Regions from separate parts of the Homo sapiens genome. Here region 1 is linked to region 2. The links come from fine-mapping of genetic effects on gene expression. A gene starts in region 2. The other region holds a variant in brackets. All regions are shown on one strand. Distances are between the middles of the regions.

Region 1 (4,398 bases), 36 kb after region 2:
TCCTGAGTAGGTGGGATTACAGGCACGTGCCACCACGCCTGGCTAATTTTTGTATTTTTAGTAGAGACAGGGTTTCATCATATTGGTCAGGCTGGTCTAAAACTCCTGACCTCACGTGATCCGCCCTCCTCGGCCGCCCAAAGTACTGGGATTACAGGTGTGAGCCACCAAGCCCAGCCAAGTATTTTGTTAAGAATTTTTCCATCTATGTTTTTTTTAAGGATATTGACCTGAAGTTTTCTTTTTTTGTTTTGTCTCTGCCATGTTTTTGTATCAGGATGATCCTGACCTCATAGAATGAGGTAGGGAGGAGTCCCTCTTCAGTTTTTTGGATAGTTTCAGCAGGAATGATACCAGCTCTTCTTTATACATCTGGTAGAATTCAGCTGTGAATCCTTCTGATCCTGGGCTTTATCTGGTTGATAGGCTTTTTATTACCAATTCAATTTTGTAACTTGTTATTGGTATGTTCAGATTTTTAATTTCTTCCTGGTTCAATCGTGGGAGATTGTATGTTTCCAGGAATTTAGCCACTTTTAGTAGGTTTTCTAGCTTGTGTGCATGGAGGTGTTTGTTATACTCTCTGAGGTTTTTGTTTTTTTTAAATATTTCTATTGGGTCAGTAGTAATGTCCCCTTGTCATTTCTGATTGTGTTTAATTGGATCTTCTCTCTTTTTCTTTATTAGTCTATCTAGCGGTCTATCAATCTTACTTATTCCTTCAAATATCGACTTCTGGTTTCATTGATATTTTGTATGGTTTTTTTGCACCTGAATTTCATATAGTTCAGCTCTGATTTTGGTTATTTCTTGTCTCTTACTGACTTTGGATTTGGTTTGCTCTTGTTTTTCTAGTTCCTCAAGGTGTGATATTAGGTTGTTAATTTGAGATTCTAGCTTTCTGATGTGGGCAGTTAGTGCTATAAGCTTTCCACTTAATACTGCTTTGGCCATGTCCCAGAGATTTTGGTATATTATATCTTTTGTTCTCACTAGTTTCAAAGAATTTCTTGATTTCTGCCTTCATTTCATTGTTTACCTAGAAGTCATTAAGTAGCAGGTTGTTTAATTTCCATGTTATTGTTTAGTTTTGATTGCTATTCTTATTATTGTTTTCTATTTTTATTGTTTTGTGGTCTGAGAGTGTGGTTGGTATGATTTTGGTTTTTTTGAATTTGTGGAGAATTGTTTTATGGCTGATTGGTTGATTTTAGAGTATGTGCCATTGCAGATGATAAGAATGTGTATTATGTTGTTTTTGGAATGGAGAAAACACAAATAAATGAAAAGACATTCCATGTTAATGAATTGGAAGAATAATATTGTTAAAATGTTCATATTACCAAAGCAACCTACAGAATCAGTGCAGTCTCTATCAAAATCCTGATGGTATTTATTACAGAAATAGAAAAAAATCCTAGAATTCACATGGAACCACAAAAGGCCTCAAATAGCCAAAGCAATTTTGAGCAAGAAAAACACAGCTGGGGACATTACAAGTCCTGATTTAAGACTATATTCCATAGCTACAATAATCAAAACAGCATGATACTGATATAGAAGTTAAAAAGGAATTATTTAGGCAGTTAGTAAGGGTAAAAGAATTCTCAGTGGAATTTCCTTTTAATAAAAAGCAGCCCCCACATCATTTCTTTTCTAACAAAAATCAACCTGAAAAATCAAGCTGCAAGCATTGATACACAAGCTGGAAGCTTGCATAGGTGAATACTGGCAGCCGTGCCGATACCAAAGAGATACCTGGAAGCCAGGTACATCCAACATGGAGGTTTTCTCCTCCCTTCTCTTTGTTGCCAAATGTGCAGATGTCATGGTGCTGGCCAGGTGGAGATCCCACCTGTATAATAAAAGATTAGGGTGGGATGGCCAGCCTAATCACGGGCTATGTAAATGGCACACCTGGTCCAACCAATCCCATGGGCCCTATGAAAATCAGACACTGCCTTTCTAAGCCCCTCTATAAAGTCAACTGCATCTCACCCCAAACCTGGAAACCCACTTTGGTTCCCTTCCTCTGCATGAGGAAGCTCTGTCTTCTTTCTTTCACTTTAATTAAAGTTCTGCTCTTAAACCCACTCCTTGTATGTGTCCTCATATTTGATTTCCTTAGCACAAGACAACGAACCTTGGGTATTTCCCCAGACAAATGATGTCGCTTCAGTATTGGCATAAAAACAGACAGATAGACAAACAGAACAGAATAGGCAGTGCAGAAATAAACCCATGCATATACAGTCAGCTTATCTTCAACAAGTGTGCCAAGAATGCACAATAAAGACAGGATAGTCTCTTTTCCATCCTGGCCAACGTGGTGAAACCCCGTCTCTACTAAAAATACAAAAATTATCTGGGCATGTCGGCATGTGCCTGTAATCCCAGCTACTTGGAAGGCTGAGGCAGGAGAATTGCTTGAACCTGGGAGGCAGAGGTTGCAGTGAGCCGAGATCACGCCATTGCACTCCAGCCTGGCAAAACAGTGAGACTCCGTCTCAAAAAAAAAAAA[AG/G]AAAAGATAGTCTCTTTAATAACTGGTTTTGGGAAAACTGGATATCCGCATGCAAACAAAGAAATTAAACCCCTCTCTTACACCATACACAAAAATCAGCATAAAATGAATTAAAGACCAAAATGTAAGACCTGAAACCATAAAACTCCTAGAGGAAAACATAAGGGAAAAGCTTCTTGACATTAGCCTTTATAATGATTTCTTGGGTATGACACCAAAAGAAGGCAACAAAAGCAAAAACGGGCAAGTGGGAAGACATCAAACTCAAAAGCTTCTGCACAGCAAAGAAACGATAAAAAATAAAAATAAAAAGCCCACCTATTGAATGAGAGAAATTATTTGCAATCTGTATTAGGTTATTCCTCCATTGCTATAAGAAGTACCCAAGGCTGGGTAATGTATAAAGAAAAGAGGTTTAATTGGCTCATGGTTCTGCAGGCTGTACAGGAAGCCTGGTGCTTGTGTCCGATGATCTTCTTGGGAGGCCTCAGGGAGCTTTTACTCACCGTAGAAGGCAAAGTGAGAGCAGGTAGGTCACATGGAGAAAGCAGGAGTGAGAGAGAGTTGGGGAGAGTGCTACACAATTTTAAACAACCAGCGAATATCAGTGAAGCAAAACATTTTAGGATTTGAGTTGAGATGGAGAAACAAAGAAGAGGTCAACATATCCCTATAATGGAAAGGAAGGGCAGGGTATGAGAATGATATCGGAGTGCATAAGAAGGAGAGGTAGGGTTATGCCATTTTTTCCTTTTCCCTCTGTGTCTGAAATCTTTTTCTTTCTTTCTTTCTTTTTTTTTTTTGGAGATGAAGTTTTACTCTGTCACCCAGGCTGGAGTGCTGTGGTGCGATCTCAGCTCACTGCAACCTACACCTCTCGGGTTCAAGTGATTCTCCTGCCTCAGTCTCCCGAGTAGTTTGGACTACAGATGTGTGCCACCATGCCTGGCTAATTTTTGTATTTTTAGTACAGACAGGGTTCTGCCATGTTGGCCAGGCTGGTCTCAGACTTCTGACCTCAAGTAATCCACCTGCCTCCATCTCCCAAAGTGCTGGGATTAAAGGTGTGAGCCACCGCACTCGACCTGAAATCTCTTGACATGTTATATTCATGTAGTCTATGAAATTGGAGTACGATCAACAGCTAGGATGGGAACTGCCTGCCTCTATTCCTTGACTTCTTTCCTATGATATGGCACATGGAAACCCTCAAAAGGGTCCTGTGGGCAAAAGAGACTAGATATTATTACTCAGACTGTCTTCTCAAAAGGGTTGCGTGGAAAGGCGTTACAGAAATCTGGGTTCCCAAGTGAAAAACAATCAAGGGACTCTAAGAATTTTTTATCTCCACAGTTAATTGGCCCCTGAGGAGAATATTCTCCTGTTATCTTCAGGCTCACTCCGCAAAATATCTCATTCTCCTGATCACTTGGAACAAACTCCAAGTAAAGCCCTTTGGGGATGCTTATCTCAGTGCATACAGCACAGTCTAATTGACATCTTGAGTAATGGTCTCCAGAAGCCATGCAAGATGTGTCCTCTGGGATGGAATCCCTGACGCCATTCTATTTAGTGTCCACAATTTGCTTCAGCTGACATAGGTCCTCTGGGTTAGGGGGATGTTTTATTTCTCCCAGATGATGTCTGTTTTTTCTTATGATTGGCTCACATCAGACCAAGAATGTTCTTACTCTAACCCCCATGATTACTATTGAGAAGACATTTATGCAGTCAGAAAAGTGCTTCCTGACTGCATCAGCCAAATTCATATTTTATTAAGTAGGGAAGGAAGTGTAAAGCTAAGAAGAGAGTGCCTTGAGAGATCCAAAACAATGGAAAACCATAACAGATTTTCTTTTGACTCTGGGCACATTCA
Region 2 (4,398 bases):
GCCCTGCGAACATAAAGAAACATAGTGATTCCACTTCTCTGAATGAACCTTGGCTGGTATACAGACTTATAGACATTTTGTGATGGAGAAAAATTGTTAATTAGGGAGCCTCACTTAGTAAAGAAGGAAGGTCATCTCTGGTATGGCAGGAATAAAGACATAAGGATTTTAAGGGATTTACCTGAAAAGATTTAAATGACTACTGTAAGGGGAATAAATACTTTGCAGGAATGCTGAAACTTCTCATTCAATACTTAGGTAAACATATAGACACACAGATGCCATAAACACTCATGGTAAACATCAGTAACTGTTAAGAGCATTCCTTCCTGCTTGGTCCCTATTAAAGAACCAGATCCCTTCTCCATAGAGTATTCCAATTTGCAAAGAAAATCCATTCATTAGTTGTCCAATTTAAATGTTTTAGAAATATTCAGTGGAACTTTCATCAATAACCCCCAAACAGATACCTCAAGAACCCCTTTTTCTAATCATTTAATCATACTACTTACTGAGAAAAATTATTATAGGAAAGGCAGTATTTGATATTGGGACATAAAAAGAATGAAAAATCTGTTAAATAAGCAAAAGCCCATTAGCCTGAGGCTGTCTTGGTACTTGAGTTCCCATATAACAAAATACAACCTGACTTAGTATGTAAACGAACTGAAGCCTAACTTACTTTATTTTTTATAACAGCTGGGTTTCAGCCAATCACGGCCGAGCTTCAGCAAATAACAGACAGCCAACTGATCAGACCATGCCCCAATAAGGCAAATGCCTCATCATATCATTGTCAAATAAGGCAGACACCTAGATGTTAGCTAATGAGGTGATTTCTCTACTTTGCTTCCTATAAAAGCTAGCAGGTCATACTGCTGGACAGAGCTCTCTGAACCTCTTTTGGTTCTGAGTGCTGCCCAATTCATGAACTGTTCTTTGTGCAAATAGCTTCTATTAAATTTGTCAGTCCAGAGTTTTTTTTGTTTTAAACAAATATTCACAAGAAAAGGAAGAAAGTGGGAAGAATAAAAAGCAAAGCACCTCAGAAACACAAGATCGAAAATCCACTTAAGGGATATAGATAATTCCCTGAAACAGGTGAGCATATTATTTGTTGAAAGCCTCCATGGATGTTCTTTGGGATAGCAAAATGGTTGCTACTTTTCAAATTGGATACCAAAAAGGCAATGTATCTGCATCTCAGAATCCAAATCATCCCCACGTTAGCCAAACTCCAGGCCTACCAACACAGATCCTTCAAGTCTTCCTGGCCTTCCAGGCCCCTAGGCTGCAGCTCGCCCAGAACTCCTGGGACTCTAAAACTTAAATCGGTCTAACCAGCAGGCGAACACAGACCTGAACCCTCAAACTTGGAAAGAAAGATCATAGGCACCTCCCCGGTTGGCTCCCCCAGGGACCACAACGTCCGGCTCTAACGCCTTGCCCAAGTCCTCTGTAGCTTTCCACAGGCATTTCTGGGTCTCTATAGCTGTTTGGAGGAGCCACTCACCGGTCCCGTCCTGCCCCGCGCCTAGGCCTGAACCAACCCCCTCGCGGTTCCGGCGCGGATACCCAGCAGCTTCCGGTCTTGCGCGCTCAGGCCGGGCAACGTCCGTGCGTTCTTTTTGGGTCCTGAACCCCGGAAGAGAAACTGCGTTGTACCCTTTTACGTGAGGCGGTGACGGCGGTTCGGAAGTCGTCTGGCCTCCCCGCGGCCGCTCGCAGCTTGCTGGCCTCTCCCGCGCCTCACGTCGGACTCCGTCTCCGCGGCAGGGAAGCAGCATGGAAGCTGAGGACATCCAGGAGGAGTTGACCTGCCCCATCTGCCTGGACTATTTCCAGGACCCGGTGTCCATCGAGTGCGGCCACAACTTCTGCCGCGGCTGCCTGCACCGCAACTGGGCGCCGGGCGGCGGCCCGTTCCCCTGCCCCGAATGTCGGCACCCATCGGCGCCCGCCGCGCTGCGACCCAACTGGGCCCTGGCCAGGCTGACTGAGAAGACGCAGCGCCGGCGCCTGGGCCCCGTGCCCCCGGGCCTGTGCGGCCGCCACTGGGAGCCGCTGCGGCTCTTCTGCGAGGACGACCAGCGGCCAGTGTGCCTGGTGTGCAGGGAGTCCCAGGAGCACCAGACTCACGCCATGGCACCCATCGACGAGGCCTTCGAGAGCTACCGGGTGAGCTGGCCGTCGCGGTGACTATGACGGGGCTGTCAGTGTTGCCCGATAAAGTTTACTTAATGCTCCTAAAAGAGCCACGAAGTGGCTGTCATTCCTACTGGAAGCATGAAAAGCCCCTGAAACTCAAAGAAGTTAAGCAAAACACGAATTTCAGAGCTAGGGTTAAAACTGGAATGAGAGGAGGGGAGGTGCAAACCTCAGCAATCATTGTGCAGAATTTTCAATAAACTGGCCCTTGGGGAGCTCATAATAAAGAAAAACATACTGAGAGGGTGTGTGCCGCTGCTGTCCAATAGAAACCACATATGTAATTTAAAATCTTTCTGGTAAGATAAGGAAACGAGGTGACGTTAATTGTAATAATATATTTTATTTAATCTGATTACCCCAAATATTCAAAGCTGAGATGAAAATTATCAATGAGATTTTTTTTTTTTTTCTGAGATGGAGTCTCACTTTATTGCCCAGGCTGGAGCACAGTGGCGTGATCTTGGCTCACTGCAACCTCCTCCTCCGGGGTTCAAGCAGTTCTCCTGCCTCAGCCTCCCGAGTAGCTGGGATTACAGGCACACGCCACCACACCCGGTTAATTTTTGTTTTTTAGTATAGAGGGGTTTCACCATCTTGGCCAGGCTGGTCTCGAACTGCTGACCTCAAGTGATCTGCCCCGCTTGGCCTCCCATAGTGCTGGGATTAAGGTGTGAGTCACCACGCCCGGCCTCAATGAGATATTTTATACTCCTTTTTCATAATAGGTCTGAAATTGGTGTGTATTTTACATTTACAACACATAGCAGTTTGGAATATCCACGTTTCAGGTGCTTGTATGGCTAAATGGATACTGTATTGGACAGTGCCTGTCTGTATCTGTAAATGTCATAGACAGCTGATGATTTGGGAAAAGCCTAGCTTGTAATGATGAGGCTGGGTTTTGTTACTAGCTTCCTTCATCAGTTGGGAAAATCCTGTAACATTTGAATTTGGGGATTATCTGTCCTATCTCATGGGTTAAGAAGCTCCGGTTGAATAAATCACTTTACCTTACTCTGCTTCAGCCATACTGGCTTTCTTGCTTTTGTTTCAAGTCTGTTCTCTTTCTCTACCCACATCTATCCTTTAGATCCTTTTAGCTTTTAGCTTGAAGACCTTCCCTGATCATCCTTTCCAGAGTAGCCCCACCCCCTCCCATTACTGATGGTGTAACTCCAGTGGTCTCCAGCAGAATTGATATGCAGTAAGTACATGAACACATGAATTTATTTATTTATTTTATTATTATTGTTTTTGAGATGGAGTTTCGCTCTTGTTGCCCAGGCTGGAATGCAGTGGTGAGATCTCAACTCACTGCAACCTCCACCTCCCGGGTTCAAGTGATTCTCCTGCCTCAGCTTACCGAGTAGCTGGGATTACAGGCACCTGCCAGCATGCCCAGCTAATTTTGTATTTTTAGTGAAGACAGGGTTTCACTATGTTGGTCAGGCTGGTCTCGAACTCCTGACCTCAGGTGATCCACCCACCTTGGCCTCCCAAAGTGCTGGGATTACAGGCGTGAGCAAGCTTTCCTGGCCAAACACATGAATTTAATGACACAGTGAAAATGTTTGGAAACTGTAAAATACTGTACAGTTGTACCAGCTGACTATGAACAGGAAACAGACACAAAGCTGGACTAGAAAGTGTATGTTCATTCCTTCACTCAGTAACGTTTATTGATGCTTACTATTTGCCAAACATTGTTTTAGAATCTGGACATAAGTGGATGAGAAAGACATGGGCTTTGTCTTGTAAGGAACTTAAGCGTGTACAACATTAATTTCAGTGTGTGTGAGAGTAGCTGAAGTATTTACCAAGTGTACAGAAGGTCTGAGGTCGGAGTGATCACTGAGGAGTGAGGAAAGGCTCCGTTGAGGAGTTAAATGTGTTAGCTCTTCAAGGGTGAGTAGAGGTAGGAAAGAAGGTATTTCAGGCCAAAGGAACAGCATATTCCAAATGTGGTGGAGTGGGATAGCATGTGGTGTGTGAGAGGACTGGAGGTTGCTCAGTACTTCTGGAGCATGGAGCATGGGAAGGAGGATGGTGGGCCATGAGCTTGAAGAAAAAGGCAGGGCCTTATCATGAAGGATCTTGTTTGCCATAGTAAAAAGATTGAACTTTCTCTTTCAGGCAGTGGGGAGTTATAAAAGGGTTTTAAGGCAGGGAATGATATGATCGTTTTTT

Direction of the effects. Alleles are on the strand shown, and positions count from the first base shown. SD is a standard deviation of normalised expression in the study named.
For the expression in lymphoblastoid cells of the gene that starts at base 1,657 in region 2, G is the high allele of the variant in region 1 and AG is the other (moderate effect, 0.58 SD a copy in GENCORD).

Evidence for each region. PIP is the estimated chance that this variant, and not a neighbour inherited with it, causes the effect. A credible set is the group of variants that fine-mapping cannot tell apart.
Region 1: its variant is the best candidate, but not a certain one, in a credible set for the expression of TRIM4 in lymphoblastoid cells (GENCORD, PIP 0.68).

Annotation. Positions count from the first base shown.
Region 1 is chr7:99,881,138-99,885,535 of GRCh38, reverse strand. No RefSeq gene overlaps it. Among named protein-coding and RNA genes, the nearest start is that of OR2AE1, 6.3 kb to the right of the region's middle. The variant AG/G (reference allele first, on the strand shown) is at 2,522.
Region 2 is chr7:99,916,789-99,921,186 of GRCh38, reverse strand. It overlaps TRIM4 (tripartite motif containing 4), which reads left to right and starts at 1,657. Exons shown (of 6, transcript NM_033091.3): 1 at 1,657-2,178. The coding sequence starts at 1,786. LOC101927610 (a long non-coding RNA gene) reads right to left here and starts at 1,584. Exons shown (of 2, transcript XR_001745296.3): 1 at 1,360-1,584; 2 at 1-3. RefSeq lists enhancers at 1,286-1,395, 1,636-1,715, 1,746-1,795 and a silencer at 1,926-2,085.